Regions from separate parts of the Homo sapiens genome. Here region 2 is linked to region 1. Evidence: fine-mapped QTL for protein levels in blood plasma. A gene starts in region 1. The other region holds a variant in brackets. All regions are shown on one strand. Distances are from middle to middle. Region 1 holds the start of RSPO4 (R-spondin 4). Region 2 overlaps RSPO4 (R-spondin 4).

Region 1 (10,236 bases):
ATGACAGTAAACTTGTTGGAACCCTTGCAATTATTTATTTATTTTTTTTTTTTGAGAGGAGTCTTGCTCTTGTCACCCAGACTGGAGTGCAATGGCACGATCTTGGCTCACTGCAACCTCTGCCTCCAGGGCTCAAGTGATTCTCCTGCCTCAGCCTCCCAAGTAGCTGGGATTACTGGCATGCACCACCACACGTGGCTAATTTTTGTATTTTTAATAGAGATGGGGTTTCACCATGTTGGCCAGGCTGGTCTCGAACTCCTGACCTCAAGTGATCCGCCCACCTCAGCCTCCCAAAATGCTGGGATTACAGGCATAGGCCACCGCACTTGGCCTGGAACCCTTGCAATTCTATTCTAGTAAGCCTTGTTCTTCTGGTGCTACTGGGGCTGGCATTACCCTGCTACCAAAACCAGACAAAGACAGAACAAAAAAGAGAAATATAGACCAATATTCTTAATGGATTTAGACACAAAAATCCTCAGCAAAATATTAGTAGGTAGAATTCAGCAGTATATAATGGAGAATGGTACACCATGGCCAAGTGGGGCTTATTCCATTGAAGAAAGGTTGGTTTTATACTTAAAAATCAATCAATGTAATACATCGTATCAGTAGACTAAAGAATAAACATTAAATGATTATACCAATGTGCAGGAAAAACATTTGACAAAATTCAACAGCCATTCATAATTTTAAAAAATGCTCAGAAAAGTAGCAATAGAGAGGATCTTCCTCAAGGTGATATAGAGTGTCTACAAAAGTCCTACAGTCTAATGTCATAGTGAATGACTGAATGCTTTCCCACTAAGATTGGGAACCAGGCAAGATTGAGAACAAGGATGTCTATGCTCATCACACTTACTCGGCATATGGCTGGAAGTTCTAGCAAGTTTGATAAAGCAGGTAAAGGAAACAAAAGGCACAAGATCAGAAGGAAAGAAAACTGTCGCTATTTGCAGTTGATATGATTGTCAATGTTGCAAAACCCAAAAAAATCTACAAAAATACTCCTAGAACTAATATATGAGTTCAGCAAGGTGCTAGGATACAAGATCAACACACGAACATCAGTTGTATTTCTATCTGCTAGCAATGAACACACGGACAGCAAAATTTAAAATAGAATACCATGTATAATTTCTAAGGGAGAAAAAAGGAAATAGGTATAAATCTAACAAAACATGCACAGGAGTTGTATGCTGAAAATGACAAAACATTTATTTAAAAAAGTCAAAGAAGATCTAAACAAATGGAGAGACATACTATGTTTTTGGATTGAAAGACTCAATATAGTAAAGATGTGAATTCTTCCCAAATTCATATACATGTTTAATGCAATTCTAATCAAACTCACAGCAAGATTCTTGGTAGATATAAACAAGATTATTCTAAAATATATATGAAAAGGCAGAGGAACTAGAATAGCTAAAATAATTTTGAAAAAGAAGAATAAAGTGGGAAGGATCCATCTACCCAATTTCAAGATTTATTATATAGTTACAGTAATCAGTACAGTGTAGTATTGGTAGACAGAAAGACACATAGCCCATGGAATACAGGAGACAGCCCCAAAATAAATCCATGCCAATATGCCCAATTAATTTTTGATAAAGCTTTTACATCAAAGCATACTGGAGCAATTGGACATCCGCAGACGAAAAATAAAAAATGAACCTCGAAATAAACAAAAATTAAAAACGAACATAAAAATAAACAAACAAAAACATAAAAAAATAAACAAAAATACAAAATGAACCTTGACATAAATCTCACGCTTTGCAAATCACGTAACCAACAAAGAACTTCTATATAGAATATATACATAGAACTCTTAAAACACAATAGTAATGTAAAAATCCAATTTAAAATGTGTGAAAGATATGCACAGACATTTCACCAAAGAGGATACACAGAAACCTATACACAAGTGAGCATGGCACCTTTATTCTTAATAATGAAAAACTAGAAAATACCCAAATGTCCTTCAGTGGGTGAATGGTTAAACAAACTATATTACATTCATACGGTGGAATACTACTCAGCAGTAAAAAGCAAATAACTAATACATGCAAAACTAAAATGAATCTCCAAACAAATTGTGCTGAGTGAAGAAAGCCAAATCTCAAAAAGATGCATACTGCATGACTCCATTATACAATATTTATGTAAAAACAGTTATAGAGATGGGAGGCCAGGCGTGGTGATTCACACCTATAATCCCAGCACTTTGGGAAGCCGAGGTGGAAGAATCACTTGAGCCCAGGAGTTCAAGACCAGCCTGGGAAATATGGCGAAACCTCACCTCTGCAAAAAATAAAAAATTAGCCAGCCATGGTGGCATGCACCTGTAGTCCAGGCTACACAGCTGAGGCAGGAGAAGCTTTAGCCCAGGAGGTCAAGGCTGCAGTGAGCCATGATCGTGCCACTGCACTTCAGCCTGGGTGACACAGCAAGACCCTGTCTCAAAAAATAAAACATTACAGAGATGGAGAACAGATTAGCGGTTGCTAGGGATTAGGACTGGAAGTGGAGAGGGAGGGTGGAGCCATAAATGGATACCATGAAGGAGTCTTGTGATGATGTTTTAGTATCTTGTTTAAGTATGTTTAAATATCTTGATTGTGGTTGTATTATACAAGGCTACACACAGGTCAACGTTGCATCCTAGGAAGCCCCTCAATCCCTGGCAAACCAGACAGCTGGTCACCCTAGCAGATGGCCCCCTAGTAGGGGCCATCACGTAGCCCTTGCATCTCTGAGGAGAAATTTGGTCTTCACCCGATGAATAATACATGTCCTCTGGCTGCTTAAGAAGAGCTTGTAGGGGTCAGAGCAGACACAGGAAGGAGCTACTGCATGACTGGGGCAAGAAATGAGGGTGGCCCAACGTTGGTCAATGGGCCAGATGTTCACCAAATTCTTGCTTTTCCTCCTGTGTGTTGTCTGGCACATGGCTGGACTACATTTCCCAGTCACCCTTGCAGGTAGGTGTGGCCGTGTGTCTGAGTTCTGGCCAATGGGACATAGGTAGACAGGCTCTGTACTTCCCATAAGCCCTGCCCTTCTCGGTGAGCTTTAAACCAGGTACTGAACAGGGCAGAACACAAGCTGAAAGGAATCTGAGTTCCTGCTATCCCACAGAGAAGGATCTGCTGATCAGGAACACATGCTGTGAGCTTAGTGTGTTTCAGCCATTATACCTGTCTTCATCTATTTGTGACAATGGTGCCTTAACTGACACCCTTGGGTGCACCCCTCCCCGCCCCCCGCCAGAGCATGCCATCAGCATCACTAGCCTCCCTGGGCACCTGTATTGGGGTAGGGGAACTGGATAACAGGCCAAGATGCCCAGACAGCCCCCATAGTTAGAGAACCAAACACCCTCTGAGCATCTTGGGGTATGAAGGGCCCTGAGTTCTGGGCCTTAGAACCCTAGAAATATCCAATTCTGGAAGCACTAAAGGGGCTCTCACAGAACACAAAATCCCATCTGTGCCATTGAACAACTGGGGAAATTGAGCCTAAGAGAACAGAAAGTACTTGAGGTCCCACAATGAATCTATGGATGAATGAGTGCTTATTCATTCACTCATTTTTTAAAAAAATCCATTCCACAAGTATGTCTTAATCACTGCAGTGTAAGGCACATAGGGACAAAATAGAAGATTCCTGTCCTCATGGAACTCACAAACAAGCAAACAGGAACTGACAGACATGAACAGGTACTACGGAGGGTAAAGCAAGACAAGAGGATAAAGTGCATGGTGGTGCGTTTTACTGGAGTGGTCACAGGGGGCCTCTCTGAGGAGGCAACATCGAGGGGAGACAAGCCCCAAATCTGGGGAAAGACTTTCCAGGCAGAGAGAACAGCAAAAACCGCAGGATGAGTGACAAGAGTCTGAGAAACACGAGGCTAGCTAGAGCAGAGGCAGTGGGGAATAAATAGGGGAAAAAATTCAAGAAGGGGTAAGCAGCTTCATCCTGCAGAGCCGTGTGGCTGGCTGTCAATTCACAATGCACATTGGACCTCTCTGGCCCTGCTCACATGGAAGCTGTCCCCTTTGGACTTTGGAGACTCCAGTACTGGGGGTAGTGGGGAAGGGAATGACCTCCGCTTTCCTAAGGCTTGATCTTCTGGGGTCACCTCATTTCTCCAAGTACCTGCATTCCATGTACAGGCTGGGAGACTTGTGCATCTGGAGAATTCATTCATTCACCATTCATTTATTTATGCACTCATTATGCAAACATTCTGAGCACCGCTGTGTGTCTGGCTCTGGCTTGAAAGAGATGGCAGTTTGGAAGGAGAACAGACACATCCATTGTTACCACCTGATGTGATCAGAGCTGTGATAAAGAGATTGTGGATGCCCAGAGGAGGCACTGGACCTGGCCTGAGAATCAGGGAAGGCTTCCTGGAGCAGAGGCAGTGAAGAAGGAGGTAGGATATAGGATGGTATTCCATGGAGAGGCCCCACAACATGAAAAGCTCAGAGGTGTGAGAGGCCTGTGGTGTTTGTGAAATATTCAAGGGCTGAAATCTCTAAGGCTAAAGAGAGAGGGGTGGGGCAGTGGGAAAGACTGAGATCAGAGATATCAGAACAAGAGGTCCTTGCAGGCCATGGTGATGACCACAATGGGACACCTGGATGCCCATGTCAGCTCAGTCCTTGACTCACTGGGTGGCCTAATCTAGGCACCCCCCAGTCCTGAAGGCTCAGTGGCCTCATCTGTGAAATGGAGCACTTTGGGTGGGCTGTCTCTGACATTCCACCAAGTTCTCCGTGTTGTCTGCCAGCGTTCTTGGGGCCCCACAGAAAGAATGGCCAGGCCAGGGCTGTACCTTCAGCTGCCACACTCTCTGTGTGTTTCCCCTGCCCCTGCCATGCCTTCAAGTGTCCCTCATTGCACTGGGAGAAGGAGCTGGAGGAGATACCAGCATTTACCTTCCATTTCTTTTGGAGCAAGCTCCACATGTAGGAAAAAAGAGGACAGGCTGGGTGGGGTGGCTCACGTCTGTAGTCCCAGCACTTTGGGAGGCTGAGGCAGGTGGATCACTTGAGGTCAGGAGTTCAAGACCAGCCTGGCCAACATGGTGAAACCCCGTCTCTACTAAAAACTACAAAAATTAGCTGGGTGTGGTGGCAGGTGCCTGTAATCCCAGCTACTTGGGAGGCTGAGGCAGGAGAATCACTTGAACCCAGGAGGCAGAGGTTGCAGTGAGCCGAGATGGCGCCATTGCACTCCAGCCTGGGTGACAGAGTGAAAACCCATCTCAAAAAAAAGAAAAAAAAAAGAAAAGAAAAAGGAAGGACAATTGTTCAGCAAGAGAGTGTCAACTGTAAGTTTCTCTAGGCCTCCCTCCAAGGCCTCTTCCATTCTGATGAGTCTGTGCCTGAGAAGTGGCTAAGAGGGGCAGGCACTGGACCAGAATGGCCACTGACCTGCTGTGTGGCCTTGGGCAAGTCACTTGGCCTCTCTGAGCTTCCCTTTGCTCCCCAGAAAAGTGGAATTACTCAGAATACAAACCCAAACCATTGGGTTGTTTTGAAGACTCTAGTATATGTCAAGTTCTTAGCAATGCCCACCATATATGCCTCACAAATGATAGCTAGCATGATTGTTGTTGTTTTTGGTGGTTATAGTGACAGGAGAGGTGAGCATGCTGTCGGGTTGAAGGAGGAATTTTGCTCTGAAAGGGTTAAACTTGAACCAGCTGCTCCCAGTCCTGGTGATAAGGTTGGAGGAAACACAGTCCAGGTCCCCAGCCCTGTCACAAGTGGATTTATGAGGTGCTGGTCACTTTGAGTCGGAGTAGATGATCCCCGCAGACTGCACAGGAAACATTCAGGGTTAGTGGCCAGAAGGGGCTCAGGCCTCTGTTAAAAGAATGAGACAGAGTAGAGAGAAAAAGAGAAAGCCAGGCAGCAGGAGCCCCGCAAACACCCCACCCTGCAGGAGGGGAGAAGGGGAGAGATGGGGTTGAAGGGAGAGACAGAGAAAAGGGAGAACCAGAGGCCCAGCCAGGAGGACACAGACAGTGAGCCTGAGAGAGAGACGGCCGGCAAGAGTAAAGGATGCAGGAACAGCCAGGCAGGGTCGGGGGCAGAGCAGGGGAGCGCGGGCCGCGGAAAGACCGAGAAAGCAGGAGACAAGGAGTTGTCCTTAAGGGCCAGAAGGAGGAACAGACAGAGAAAGGGGACTGGGGGGAGGGAAAGAAAATCACAGGCGCTGAGAGGGCGCGGGGGACCGTACGGGTCTCCGGGTGTCCGCGCATCTGTACCTGCGCGCGCGTGCGTACCTGTGGCTGGCGGTGGGCACGTGCACGTGCTCGGGGGCAGTGCTGGGGGCGGGAAAGACGCAAGACCGCCGGCTGCGGGACAGATCGAACTCGAGGGCCCCGACCCGGGTGACCCCCGCCCCCTCCCCGCGCGCGCTCCCGGGCCCCGAGCTGGTTAACGCGCCGCCCCCGCCGCGCCGGCTCCTCCCCGCCAGGGCAGTGCCCCGGCTCCGCCAACGCCCTCACTAGACCTGGCGGCCGGACCGACCCGCGCCTGGCGGATGCGCCCGGCGCGCCCACAGCAGCCCCCGCGCCCGCCGTGCCGCCGCCGGGACGTGGGGCCCTTGGGCCGTCGGGCCGCCTGGGGAGCGCCAGCCCGGATCCGGCTGCCCAGATGCGGGCGCCACTCTGCCTGCTCCTGCTCGTCGCCCACGCCGTGGACATGCTCGCCCTGAACCGAAGGAAGAAGCAAGGTACAAGGGGTGGCTGGGCAGGGCGGCCGGGCAGGCGCTGCGGGGCAGACCGGGGGCCGGAGGACCGGGGGCGGCGGCTCTGGGGGCATCTGCCTGGTGCCTGGCGCCCTGGGTCCTTCGCTCCTCCAGACGAGTCTCAACCTCACTTAAGATGGGGAGATTGAGGCTCCAGGGCACCCAGTGAGCGAGCCATTGAGTAGGGTGGGCCAAGGAGACTCACCCAGAAGGGAGAGGGTAGCAGGGCTCTCTGTAGTAGCCGCATGGTCAGCAGAAAGGAGGATGGCTTCGTGCAGAGACAGAAGACTCAAGAGCCAGCCTGCGGGGCACAGGGACTAGGAGACAGACTCAGTGGCGTAGAAGCCATTCCAAGCATCCATGCTCGGCCAGGAAGTGACATAGAGAGCCTTGGGCTGGGCGTCCAGAGGCCCCAGTCCCAGCCTCATCACTCACCCTGACTCCTGGTGTCACCTCCCAGAGGGCAGTGATCCTCCATGGCCCCCCTATGTTGAGTTCAGCCAGACCTGAGACCTGAGTTCAGGTTCACTTATTCTAATAGGGGATGACCTAGAAGAAGTCCAGCCCCTCAGAGAGCCTCAGCTTTTCCATCTTCACCTCTCAGGCCACTAGGAAGATGAGCCAAGGTTCAGATTATAAATGTACCAGGGGCCGCATGCGCTCTCACCTGGGAGTCCTATGCCACAGCCTCGCTGTGAGAGTCAGAACATCCTCAGAAGGTGGGTTGGAGGCTGTCCCTGCAGAGCAGGAGTTGGTAGAGCCTGTGCCTCAGAGAAGGGTAAGCGGGTGAGCAAGTGAGCAAATCGCCTGCCTGAGCTGGGCAGCCCTTTGGCCTCCAGGTGCCACTCTTAAGATCAGCAGCCGAATGCCAGCCACTATGCCACGGGTTTTTCATGTCCTAGCTCATCAAATCCCAACTATATGCTCATGACATAGGGGTCGTCCAGTTTTAATAAAGCCTGGGATTCCAAGGCTCAGACTGGTTTAAATAACTGCTGAATTGTCCAGCTGGTGTCTTCTCTCTTTCCAGCCCTGGCATCGGGTCTGAGCAAGGATAAAGGGGAAGGAAAATGAGAGAGGATGGGTTGCCCTCTGGGGCCTTCCATTTGTGTGAAAGCCCTACAGCGACACAGTCACTCCTGGAACGGAGCAGGAAGCAGACAGAGGCTGTGGGAGAATTGGGAGGTGGGATTGGATGGGGTTGGGGAGACTGTGGCCCAAGAGGCTCCAGTTCTTGCTGTGACAGTGGGACAAGGGACTAGAGAGGCGTGTGGTTTTCAGCTGAGCTGGGGTGAGTTTGGGACTCTATGGGGACACTCCTTTGTGAATGGCCTTTGTTTAGTAGTTAGGGGCATGGGCTCTGGAGCCAGGTCAACTGAGTTCAAATCCCAGCTTCCCCAGTTACCAACTGAGTGACTTTGGATAAGTCACTTTGCCTGTCCAATCCTCACTTTACCCATCTGAGGGTCCTTTAGAAGATCTCTGAGATCTTTCTCCATTCTAAACAATACCAAAAAATCAAACAAACCCCCTTTCCCTTCATCAACCCATCTTTTACTTAAGTATCCTGCTCATAAGGAGGATTGTGGGCAAGATGAGTAGCTAAGGACACAGGCTCCTAATGGGTGCTCGTAAGTATTAATCATTCTCATTTCCTGTCCACTGTGTCTTTGGCTACTCACAGTGGCTTAGTGGAGGGAGGGGAGAGATGCTTGTTTTCTGGATGAGGGAACTGAGGTTCAGAGAAGGAAACTGACTTGTCCAAGGTCGCACAGCAGGTGAGTAGCAAAGCAGGCTCGAATCCCAATCTGCCTGACATAATGCTGAGAAGATATCTTCTGAGGTGTGCTGGTCTTCCCTTCTCAGAGCCTCAGTTTCCTCATCTAAAGAGGAGCTGGTTTAGGCCAGGTGTGGTGGCTCACGCCTGTAATACCAGCACTTTGGGAGGCCAAGGCAGGCGGATCATTTGAGATCAGGAGTTTGAGACCAGCCTGGCTAACATGATGAAACCCTGTCTTTACTAAAAATACAATGATTAGCTGGGTGTGGTGGCGGGCGCCTGTAATTCCAGCTACTTGGGAGGCTGAGGCAGGAGAGTCGCTTGAACCCAGGAGGCAGAGGTTGCAGTGAGCCGAGATCATGCCACTGCACTCCAGCCTGGGTGTCAGAGTGAGACTCTGTCTCAACAACAACAACAACAACAAAAAGGAGCTGGTTTAGAAGACTTTAAGATGCTTCTCAGCTCAAAAAAGACAAAAAAATTAAAGAAAAATGAAAAATTCCTATCCTGCCCCTTTTGCCCCCCGCCCCATCTACAGCTCACCACCACCTCCCCAGGAGCTCAGTGAGGAGGTAGGGATATGGCCGCAATTTGGTGAGGGGCTCTCAGCATCCCTCCTCCAGTACCTGATCTCTTGCCTCTGGGACACACACCTGCCTAGCATCTTCAGAAGAGGCTTAGGGCTCCATTTATTTGTTGGGGTACAATGGAGATAGCCTTGGATTTCAGTCACACCCCTGACCCAGTTGTATCATGTGACCTTGGGTGAGTGGATTTTCTCTGTCCCCCGCCCATAGCCTCAGTTTCCCACTGGCACTGCAGTGGGGACCAGAGCTAGATAAACCCTTCCTGTAGCATATTTTGCAAGGCAGCCACAGGAGTTCTGGTCAAATAGATTGGGAAATGCTGGGTTTAGCAGATTTCTTGGCTGTGAGACTTATCAGAGCATGCTGAAGAGGTGGAGACAGACAGTGTAACCCAGGTGCGATGGCTCAAGCCTATAATCCTGGCACTTTGGGAGGCCAAGATGGGAGGATAGCTTGAGCTCAGGAGTTCGAGACCAGCCTGGGCAACATGGCAAAACTCTACAAAAAATACATTTTTTGTCTCTATAAAAAAATACAAAAAATAGCCAGGCATGTTGGTGGTGGTGCACACCTGTAGTCCCAGCTACTTAGGAAGCCGAAGTGGGAGGATCGCTTCAGCCCAGGAAAGACATCAAGGCTGCAGTGAGCCGTGATTGTGCCACTGCACCCCAGCCTGGGCGACAGAGCAGACCCTGTCTCAAAAAAAAAAAAAAAAAAAGAGAGCGAGAGAGAGTGACCTTTCCCAAACATATTACACATCAGAGACCATTTCTCATAAGGCATCTGCTTGGAAAATTCTGTACACAATCCCTCAGGGTCCTACCAGCTTTGACCTTATCTAACTTTGGCAGGAGAATGTGTCCTGAAAACACCTGGGTATTGGCAGTGCTTCATTCATTCACTTGTTCATTTCACAGGGCAGCCTCTGTGCCAGGCTCTGTGTTGGGGACCTTGGAGATACCCAGGTGAGCAGCCCTGGGCCTGTCCTTGGGGAGCTGCCAACATAGAGGGATGACCCTTTCCCACCTTTCTCCAGCCTCCCCCATGCCTGAGTCTTTGGCCTTAGCGTTTGGCCAGGTCTGCACAATCCCGAGGAAT
Region 2 (10,426 bases), 42 kb after region 1:
ATCCTCCCGCCTCAGCCTCCCGAGTAACTGGGACCACAGGCATGTACCACAACAGCTGGCTATGCGTTTATGTTTTTGTAAAGACAGGCTCTTGCTATGTTGCCCAGGCTGCCCCTGGGCTCAAGCGGTCTTCCCACCTCAGCCTCCCAAAGCATTGGGAGTATAGGTATGAGCCACCACACCTGGCTGAGCACTGATTTTGGAATAGGACAGGCCTGGGGTCCAATCCTAGCTCTAAACCTTACCCTTTAGTGATCTTAAGCAAACCACCTCAGCTCTCTGTCCTTCGGTTTCTCCAAACGTTAGAAAAAAAAAAAGACAATAGAACATAGAGCCTACCTCATGGGGAGGAATTGTTATGAGGATAAAGTGAATTAGTACAATTTAAAGTGCTCAGTACAGCAGCCAGCACACAGTAGATGCTCAGTACGTGTCAGTATCAGTGTTATTACTGCTCTGATTATTTCCTAACAGCTCCTTGTCACACTCCTGCCTGTGAGCCCTCCCGTTCCTGCACTAGGCTGCTCCTTGGCATTCTCATCTACACTGTGCCTCTCTGCCCACGCATTCCCTCCGGGCTCACATTCATGGTCATTCCAGCTGCTGATGGCCCCTGACTCCGTGTCTCCAGCCTCCCTGAGCAGCTGATCCTCACCTCCACTGCCCTCTGGGTGCCTTCTTTCCACTCCCACTGCCACCATCCCCCACCTAACGCTCCCTCTGGGTTTCCTCTGGGTTTCAATAACCAGCTCCCTGATCCCTGGGTGGCATGCGCGAGATGCAGACATCGCTGTTGACTCTTCTCTCTCCCTCACCCTATATTCAATCCAATCTGTTCATTTATTCACTCTGAAAATATCTACTAGAGCATCTGCTATGGCCAGGCACTTTCCTAGGTGCTGGAGACACATTACAGAACAAAACAGACAAAGCCTCTGCACTCAAGGACATGACATTTCAGTGGAGAGACAGAAGCGACACCTGAGAACAAATGCATAATATTTTGGGTGGTAGGAAGAACTTTGGGGTGAAAATGAAGCAGCACGAAGCTCCCAAACCCACACCATTCAGCTCATCCCTTTCTCCCCACCCATTTGTTTCTGTCCTCTGTGCCGCCCTCTTCCCACCCTCTTGCCACCCCCTGCCTATCGCCAGGGTTCTGGCCACAGCTCCTGCCCGTCTCCCGCCTTGGTTCTCAGTCCCTCCAGCCCAGTCTCCACTCAACAGCAGAGGGAGTATTTCACAATGATAGTCTGCTCAATTTCTTTTCCTCCCAGGACCCTTCAGTGGCTCCCACTGCCCTTGGGCGGAGCCCACCCAGGCCCTGGGCAATCTGTCCCATCTGCCAGCCTTTCCACCCCCATCATTTTTTTCCTCCTCAGTTTGAGCTTATTCTCCGGCTTGCCCAGTTCCAGGCCAAATCATCCTGGGGACTCTGCTGGGGTTATGCCCTCACTTGGAGCACCTCCCGTCCCTCCCTGAGCCTGGCTAGGCTCCCCTTCCCCGCCATCCCACCCCCACTTCAAGACCCAGTCCAGGGGTTTCCTCCCCTACAACCCAACCCATGCTGCTTCTGGGCTCCCACGGTGCCTGCACTTCCCTCATCACGGCGGTGTCCAGATGGTGAATTCCAGGAGGCCTGCAGACCCTGGGCTGTCTTGTCTGCTGCTGCTCCCTCAGCACCCAGAATAGCACCTGGCATACACTGGGTGCTCAGTCTTTACTTGTCAAATGTGTGTATCTAGCAAGGTCTGGGTCCCACTGTGTCTTGAGCTTGCTGTGTCTGCTGTGTGAGCCTCTTGCTGCGTTCCCTTAGCAAACCTCTGCTCTAGGTCTCAGTGTCCAAATCTACAAAATAGGAGTATTCATAGCTACCCATATTCTGTGCCTACTTCTCATGGACTTTTAAAATAATCAAAGTATATATATATATATATGTGTGTGTGTGTGTGTGTGTGTGTGTATGTGTGTATATATGTGTATATATATATGTGTGTGTGTGTGTATATATATGTGTATATATATGTGTGTGTGTGTATATATATGTGTATATATATATGTGTGTGTGTGTGTATATATATATATACATGTATATATGTATTTTTATTACCCCCTATGAAGAACTTTTATGTCCATGGCCTCCTTTTTCTTCCTTCCAAAGTTGATCAAAGACACATGATCAAGTTTAAAACCTGTGTCCTGGTCCTGAGGGCTTCCCAGGCAACCTTCCAGCCTCCTCTCCTGTCCCCGCCTTCCTGAGACTTGACTCCCAACTCAGGCTGCCCCATCTCCCAAACATGGTGGGCCGGGCTCCCAAGGCTTTGCACACCTGCCTGGAATGGGCTTCCTTCTTCTCACCTGACGAGCTCCCCTCTCTCCCTTTAACTCATACATCACCTCCTCCAGGAAGCCTTTCCTTTAAAGCTAGACAGTCGGCCGCTCTGGCTTCAGGCCCATATTAGTCTGTGCATGCATTCGTTTCGCTCTCATTCCAGGCTCTTATAAATAACTCTGCTCCTAGCAGGTGGAAGTGGTGTCTTCAGTCTTCAGAGGACTGAACCCCTCAAACCCTGCCCTTGGATCTGAAGGACCCTCACTGCCGGCTGACCCTGTCTGTCTGTCTGTCTGTCTCTCCTTTCACCCCACAGGGGAGTGTGAACTGGGTCCCTGGGGCGGCTGGAGCCCCTGCACACACAATGGAAAGACCTGCGGCTCGGCTTGGGGCCTGGAGAGCCGGGTACGAGAGGCTGGCCGGGCTGGGCATGAGGAGGCAGCCACCTGCCAGGTGCTTTCTGAGTCAAGGAAATGTCCCATCCAGAGGCCCTGCCCAGGAGGTGAGCCCCAGGACAGGCACACGAGGCTGCGGTGGGAAAGGCCCACAGGGACAGGGCGGACTCAGATCACTGCCCCACAAATAGTATCTATGAGACTGCCTGAAAGGCCACCATTAGCCATACTATCATGTGGAGTACACATCACCTTCCCTGGTGTCCTTTCAAAGGAGGGCCTTCCTTGCTGGGTTCAGTCCCAAATACATTAGGAAAATTGAGCTGGCCAGGAGTTCCCAACCCTCTCAAACTGAACACCCCCCTTTTAATAAGAAGGATTTGGGAATACCCTCTTTATCATTCTTAATGAAGTTCATGGAGAATGTGGCCTACTTGCAAAGGTAATTTTTTTTTATCAGTATAGTGTCCTAACTGTAATATAGAGGAGAAAGAAAAGAAATTTCTTGATGGAAGCGCTTGGCCCAACATACCAACAGACACTTAGGGAAGTACAATCCCAGTGAGGACCGCGGCCGTGGTCAGCGCCCCAAGTACGTGGCCACATCGCCATCAGAGATGCGATTTCCCAACAGTGACCAATGATTAGTAAGGTCCAACCCAATTGATCTCTGATTGACACCACACTCACAGTGCCCTAGAATCTTCAGTGAATGGAAGTGTTCGAAACCAATTGGTATTCATGAGTCAAACAGAATTCAGCTCCCAGCAAGCAGACTTTTCAGCTACGTGAGGGTGGGGCACGATGTGAGAGAACTGGATGGAACAGGGGGACAGCTCGTCTTTGC[G/A]GGGGACTGTCCCACGCTGGATCCCGATTGCCGTCCACTGAATGCCACAGGAACCCCCTTCACTGTGCCATTCAAGACCACTACACGTATTTCCAAAATGTTTCTGGGGGCTATGAAGGACCACTGATTTACATAGAAGAGAGGCCACAGGGTGTGCTTGGTAAGATGTGAACGGTGAGTAGTATTGGCAGTGTTGACTGGGCACTGTGCCGAATTCTCTATAATCGTTAACTCATGTAATCTTCGCAGTGATGCTATGCGGTAGGTGTTATTAGCACTATCCCCATTTTACAGATGAGGGGACTGAGGCCCAGAAAGGTTGAGTCACTCACCTAAGGGTCACAAAGCCAGGGAGCTGTAGACCTAGAATTCAAACGTAACTCGTCATGCAAAGAGGAATCTAAAGTCATGATGAAGGATGAGGGACCTGGAACCAGGCCACCCGGGGCACCCAGCTGGGACATAGTGGAGCCAGGATTTGAACTCAGGGACACTCCTCTTTCAGAAGGACTTGTGCTATTTGGGTTGGGAGTGCAGCTAGCAGAGATAGGAGCCTTTGGGAGTCATGTTGGGCAGGTGAGGACAGAGTGAGGTTGAGGTGGAACCAGAGAACCTAAGAGACCCCAGAGCCAGAGCAGGACTCACACAGGAGGCAGACAGTTCTTCTGCACTCATTACCACATGGCACCTCTCATGGCTCCAAGAGCTGGGGGTGAATGGCTGTTGGGGAATCATGAGGGGAAAGCTTTTCCCCTGGATAATAATAATCACAATAACTGCAAACATTCATAAAGCATCTACCATGTGCTGGCTGTGCTTAGTGCTGTGAAACATGACTCTAATCCTCGCAACAACCCCGCTGTAGCTCCCTGCATCACCCAGGTCTTGGCTGCAGTGGCTCCTCCTCAGAGAGGCTTCCCAGGAGTCCCCCTCCCCGGAGTCATTTTCCATCATATCACATGGTAGCACTTGCACCCTTCTGAAATGAGCCTTCTCATTCTCGTGTTTGCTTGTTCAGCGTCTGTTTTCCTTACTGGAGTGTGATCTCCAGTGACGGCAAGGGCTTTATCTGCCTTGTTCACAGCTGTCTCTCTAGTGCCTCTAACACAGTCTGGCACATAGTCGGTATCCAGTTAATATTTGTTGGATGAGTGGATGGATGGCTGAATGCACAGGTGGGTGAGTGGGTAGGTAGATGGGTGGATAGGAGGGTAGATGGGAGGGTAGGTGGGTGGATGAGTAGGTAGGTGGATGATTAGGTGGGTGGGTAGGTAGGTAGATAGGTGAACAGGTGGATGGATAGGTGATGGGTGGGTGCCTAGGTGGATGGATGGGTCATTGGGTATGGAGGTGGGTGAGTAGATGGGTGAATAGGTGGGTGAGTGTGTAGGTGGGTAAATAGGTGGAGGGATGGGTGGGTGACTGGATGGGTACATGAGCAGCTGGCAGGCAGGCCTAGGGAAGGGGTAGGGACACAAAGCCACTGGCCCCCACACCCCCACATCAGAGCCGGCAGGGCCACTCAGGCAGCACCCACACCCCATCTCCAGATGCTGTCCTACCTGAGGCCTGCACAGTCAGCTCTGCAGCTCAGAGTGGGAGTTGGCCTCAGTGCTCCCCAAGAGCTCAGAGTGGGCGTGGGGAGCCCCAGAGGTGGGTAGCCTGGTCTTAGCTCCTTGACTCTGCTCTGCAGAGGAAGGAGCCAGGACTGGAGCCACAGCCCTGACTCTTGGGGAGACGGGCACATAGTTGACACCCAAGGAATAAAACTGCCCTCCCCTTGCCACTAGGCTCAGAGGGTCTCTAACAGCCTCGCTGCGCACCTTCAGAAAGTGACTCATGGAGCCTCAGGTTCATCGTGTTCAAATGGACACACAGCTCCTTGCGGGGAACTGAATGGGGCCCAAGCAATGTAGGAGAATGTCCTGGGTGTGGAGACACTTTGTAAAGCAGAAACTTAGGGCTGGCCTTGCTCCCAACCATGCTGTGGTCTTCTCACCTGTCCATAACAATGACAGGCAACTGCTCAGAAGAACTCCCTGGGCAGCGGGCACAGCCAGAGTGGAGGTGGAAGGAATAAAGGAAATAAAGAAGAAAAAGAAAGGAAAGGTAGCCTGGCACAGAAAAATGATAGAAGGGTGGAGAGAAAGAGAGGACAATTGGAGAAGACGGGACTGGGTGTGGCTCAGACCCTACCTGCCTCTCTCGGCTGTTGTGAGTTTCGTATACATAAAGCACTTGGGGCTGTGGCCTGCATACAGTGAGCGCTTGCTAAATGCTGAAGTATTGTTGCCACAGTGTTATGCAGAAGTTGGTGCAGGGACACAGATGAAAGGTGTCCAGCGTCCAGCACAGAGCCTGCTCAGCTATGGAAGGAGTGTGCCGGGGAAAGCCATGGGGACTCCCATGAGGCCACCCGACATGCTGATTGGGGGGCCCCAGGTGAACCTGCAGGCCTGGCCGAGCCAGATGTCCAGCACAAGAAGGCCCTGAACAAGTTAGTGGCCCTCGCCACTCCCTGAAGACCTAGAGAGAAAGGTTCAGTTTGGGGTACCTTAGCCCACGGTCCAAACTCTCAACAGGAGGGACTGCAAGGTCAGTGCCCAAATGTTCTGAGCCCCGTTGTTGGGGAGTGGGTGGGGCACCCTTGTCTTTCAGGACTGAGGAGGCTCCCAGGACCTAACTGGCCCTGCAGCCTTGGTCACCGGGCTCTGTCCTCTCATTGCAGAGAGGAGCCCCGGCCAGAAGAAGGGCAGGAAGGACCGGCGCCCACGCAAGGACAGGAAGCTGGACCGCAGGCTGGACGTGAGGCCGCGCCAGCCCGGCCTGCAGCCCTGACCGCCGGCTCTCCCGACTCTCTGGTCCTAGTCCTCGGCCCCTGCACACCTCCTCCTGCTCCTTCTCCTCCTCTCCTCTTACTCTTTCTCCTCTGTCTTCTCCATTTGTCCTCTCTTTCTTTCCACCCTTCTATCATTTTTCTGTCAGTCTACCTTCCCTTTCTTTTTCTTTTTTATTTCCTTTATTTCTTCCACCTCCATTCTCCTCTCCTTTCTCCCTCCCTCCTTCCCTTCCTTCCTCTTCTTTCTCACTTATCTTTTATCTTTCCTTTTCTTTCTTCCTGTGTTTCTTCCTGTCCTTCACCGCATCCTTCTCTCTCTCCCTCCTCTTGTCTCCCTCTCACACACACTTTAAGAGGGACCATGAGCCTGTGCCCTCCCCTGCAGCTTTCTCTATCTACAACTTAAAGAAAGCAAACATCTTTTCCCAGGCCTTTCCCTGACCCCATCTTTGCAGAGAAAGGGTTTCCAGAGGGCAAAGCTGGGACACAGCACAGGTGAATCCTGAAGGCCCTGCTTCTGCTCTGGGGGAGGCTCCAGGACCCTGAGCTGTGAGCACCTGGTTCTCTGGACAGTCCCCAGAGGCCATTTCCACAGCCTTCAGCCACCAGCCACCCCGAGGAGCTGGCTGGACAAGGCTCCAGGGCTTCCAGAGGCCTGGCTTGGACACCTCCCCCAGCTGGCCGTGGAGGGTCACAACCTGGCCTCTGGGTGGGCAGCCAGCCCTGGAGGGCATCCTCTGCAAGCTGCCTGCCACCCTCATCGGCACTCCCCCACAGGCCTCCCTCTCATGGGTTCCATGCCCCTTTTTCCCAAGCCGGATCAGGTGAGCTGTCACTGCTGGGGGATCCACCTGCCCAGCCCAGAAGAGGCCACTGAAACGGAAAGGAAAGCTGAGATTATCCAGCAGCTCTGTTCCCCACCTCAGCGCTTCCTGCCCATGTGGGGAAACAGGTCTGAGAAGGAAGGGGCTTGCCCAGGGTCACACAGGAAGCCTTCAGGCTCTGCTTCTGCCTGATGGCTCTGCTCAGCACATTCACGGTGGAGAGGAGAATTTGGGGGTCACTTGAGGGGGGAAATGTAGGGAATTGTGGGTGGGGAGCAAGGGAAGATCCGTGCACTCGTCCACACCCACCACCACACTCGCTGACACCCACCCCCACACGCTGACACCCACCCCCACACTTGCCCACACCCATCACCGCACTCGCCCACACCCACCACCACACTGCCCCACACCCACCACCACACTCCCCCACACCCACCACCACACTCGCCCACACCCACCACCAGTGACTTGAGCATCTGTGCTTCGCTGTGACGCCCCTCGCCCTAGGCAGGAACGACGCTGGGAGGAGTCTCCAGGTCAGACCCAGCTTGGAAGCAAGTCTGTCCTCACTGCCTATCCTTCTGCCATCATAACACCCCCTTCCTGCTCTGCTCCCCGGAATCCTCAGAAACGGGATTTGTATTTGCCGTGACTGGTTGGCCTGAACACGTAGGGCTCCGTGACTGGGACAGGAATGGGCAGGAGAAGCAAGAGTCGGAGCTCCAAGGGGCCCAGGGGTGGCCTGGGGAAGGAAGATGGTCAGCAGGCTGGGGGAGAGGCTCTAGGTGATGAAATATTACATTCCCGACCCCAAGAGAGCACCCACCCTCAGACCTGCCCTCCACCTGGCAGCTGGGGAGCCCTGGCCTGAACCCCCCCCTCCCAGCAGGCCCACCCTCTCTCTGACTTCCCTGCTCTCACCTCCCCGAGAACAGCTAGAGCCCCCTCCTCCGCCTGGCCAGGCCACCAGCTTCTCTTCTGCAAACGTTTGTGCCTCTGAAATGCTCCGTTGTTATTGTTTCAAGACCCTAACTTTTTTTTAAAACTTTCTTAATAAAGGGAAAAGAAACTTGTAAATGCTTCTTGAGCATCAAGAGGGTGTTGCAAAACCATGATACTGCTGAGTTTGGAGTAGCAGAATTTAAAACATGTGGAGTGGTTTTCACAGGAATGCTTGGGGCTGAGAGGGGTCAGAGTGTATTGGGGATTGGGGTGGGGTTTCAGCTTGGGGGGAGCTGATAAAAGAGGAGGGGCCCTCAGCCCCTCCAGGCTACTCTCAAGAAGCAGACTCAGCCAGAGGCAGAAGAGGGTGACACCTCGATCCCCAGAACCTCGCAGTTTCACGAACCAGATGTCTCAGGGACCAGGGGTACCTAGGAGGTTGACAGTCCCACGGGGCCATCTAAACACCCTGGGCTGCTGGTGAGAGTGGCCTTGGCATTGGGAGGCACAGGTGGGAGCTCCAGCCTGTCACCAGCTATCTGATGGGGTCCAGGTCAAGTCACTTCCCCTTCCGGGGCCTCAGTTTTCCCATGTGATGAATGTGATGAAGAGGAAGCCTGGCTAAATTAAATCTATTGCCGAAATCTGGAAGACCCAACAACAGAATCCCCTGGGGAGCCTTTTAGAAATTCAGGTTTTGGGGCCCTCCCCCAGATCTATTCATTGCAAACAAGTTTAGGAGCAGGCAGTGAGAGCAAACATTCTTTCCAGGACAAGCTGAGGGGAGAGGTGGCTCTCAGATGACTTCCAGCTCAGAGGGCTGAGTCTAGATTTGCAGCTGCAATTCTGATTCTGACCTCAAGGCTCAATGATCTGATTCTACAGAGTTTAGTCTGTATGTGTGTGTGTATGTGTGTGTATCTTTTTAATTTTTTTTTTTTTTTGGCAGGGTCTTGATCTGTCACCCAGGTTGGAGTGCAGTGGTACGATCACAACTCACTGCAGCCTCAAACTCCTGGCCTCAAGCAATCCTCTTGCCTCAGCCTCCCAAGTAGCTGGGACTACAGGTGTACACCACCACACCCAGCTAATTTTTTATTTTTTGTAGAGATGGGGGTCTCAATATGTTACCCAGGCTAGTTTTGAACTCCTGGCCTCAAATGATCCTCCCACCTCAGCCTCCCAAAGTGCTGGGATTACAGGCATGAGCCACTGTACCCAGCCCCTATATAAATAAATATATATATAAATATATATATATATACACACACACACACACACACACATACATACACTATATAGTGTTTTCTGTTAAGATTCCAGTTTTAGGATGCTGAACGTTCTAATTTTCACAATTCTAAAAGACCAACATAAGGGTAGAAGTTTCCAGTACTGCAATTCCCTGGCCATGTTCTTTCTTCTTGGGGGGCCTGGTCCTCTGTCCTCAGCTGGGGGCTGTGGTGGTTTTTTAATATTTTCAAATTACAGGATGAAATTTCTTCAGGGCCTAAGCCCCTCCTATAACCTTTCCATCTCAGACGTTCCCTGCCCCCAGCTCCAATCCTTTCAAATCCCAGCCTCTCCCACATTCTCTGGAGGATTGAGGGGCCTCTCTGGGAAGGAGACTCTGCTGTCAGGTGGGCATCGCCCACTCCCTTCTTACAAGCCAAGCTTGGAGAAGTTCACAGAGAAGCTCAGAAACAGGGTGAGGTCACACAGCCAAAGAGAGGCAGTCTGGGCAGAGCCCAGGGGGAGGTTCCGCTGCTATTGGCCTTCTGGATGCTATGCCAGAGGGAGAGAACAACCCCTTGGCCAGAGCTGAGGAATCCCTGGTGGGTTCTTCCTGTCACCGCTTCCAACTGGGCCACACTAGGGCCCTCTCTGCAGTTCCCCCCACCCGCTCACTCCATCCTCATCCTCACCACAGCCCTGCATGTCATTCCCACATGCTGCCACCGGATGACGGCAGTCAACCAGGAACAGGTCGCAGCCAGGCTTGTCAAGGAGCGCATTTCTGAAACGGGGTCGTGTTGCGGTTCTCTCCTAGCAGGACTGGAGCAGGGTGGAGGGTAGCCGAGGGCAAGGGACAGGCTGCCTCAGACCGAAGGACTGACTGCCTCAGGCTGAAGGACAACAGTTGCAATGGGGACTTCAGCTGAATGGCCTTCTCAGCTGTGCAGAGAGTGTCAGACTCAGAGGTCCCTGTCCCAGGTCCTTCCTTGCACAGAAGGGAAATCTGACTCA

What was found. PIP is the chance, under the fine-mapping model, that this variant and not a neighbour inherited with it causes the effect. Sun 2018 read protein levels with aptamers (SomaScan).
Region 2: its variant is fine-mapped to the plasma level of the RSPO4 protein (Sun 2018, PIP 0.95).

What each region holds. Positions count from the first base shown.
Region 1 is chr20:998,606-1,008,841 of GRCh38, reverse strand. It overlaps RSPO4 (R-spondin 4), which reads left to right and starts at 6,531. Exons shown (of 5, transcript NM_001029871.4): 1 at 6,531-6,756. The coding sequence starts at 6,678. RefSeq lists a silencer at 2,927-3,107 and an enhancer at 2,902-3,196.
Region 2 is chr20:956,343-966,768 of GRCh38, reverse strand. It overlaps RSPO4 (R-spondin 4), which reads left to right. Exons shown (of 5, transcript NM_001029871.4): 4 at 2,649-2,834; 5 at 6,303-8,317. The coding sequence ends at 6,412. Among named protein-coding and RNA genes, the nearest start is that of RSPO4, 41 kb to the left of the region's middle. The variant G/A (reference allele first, on the strand shown) is at 3,575.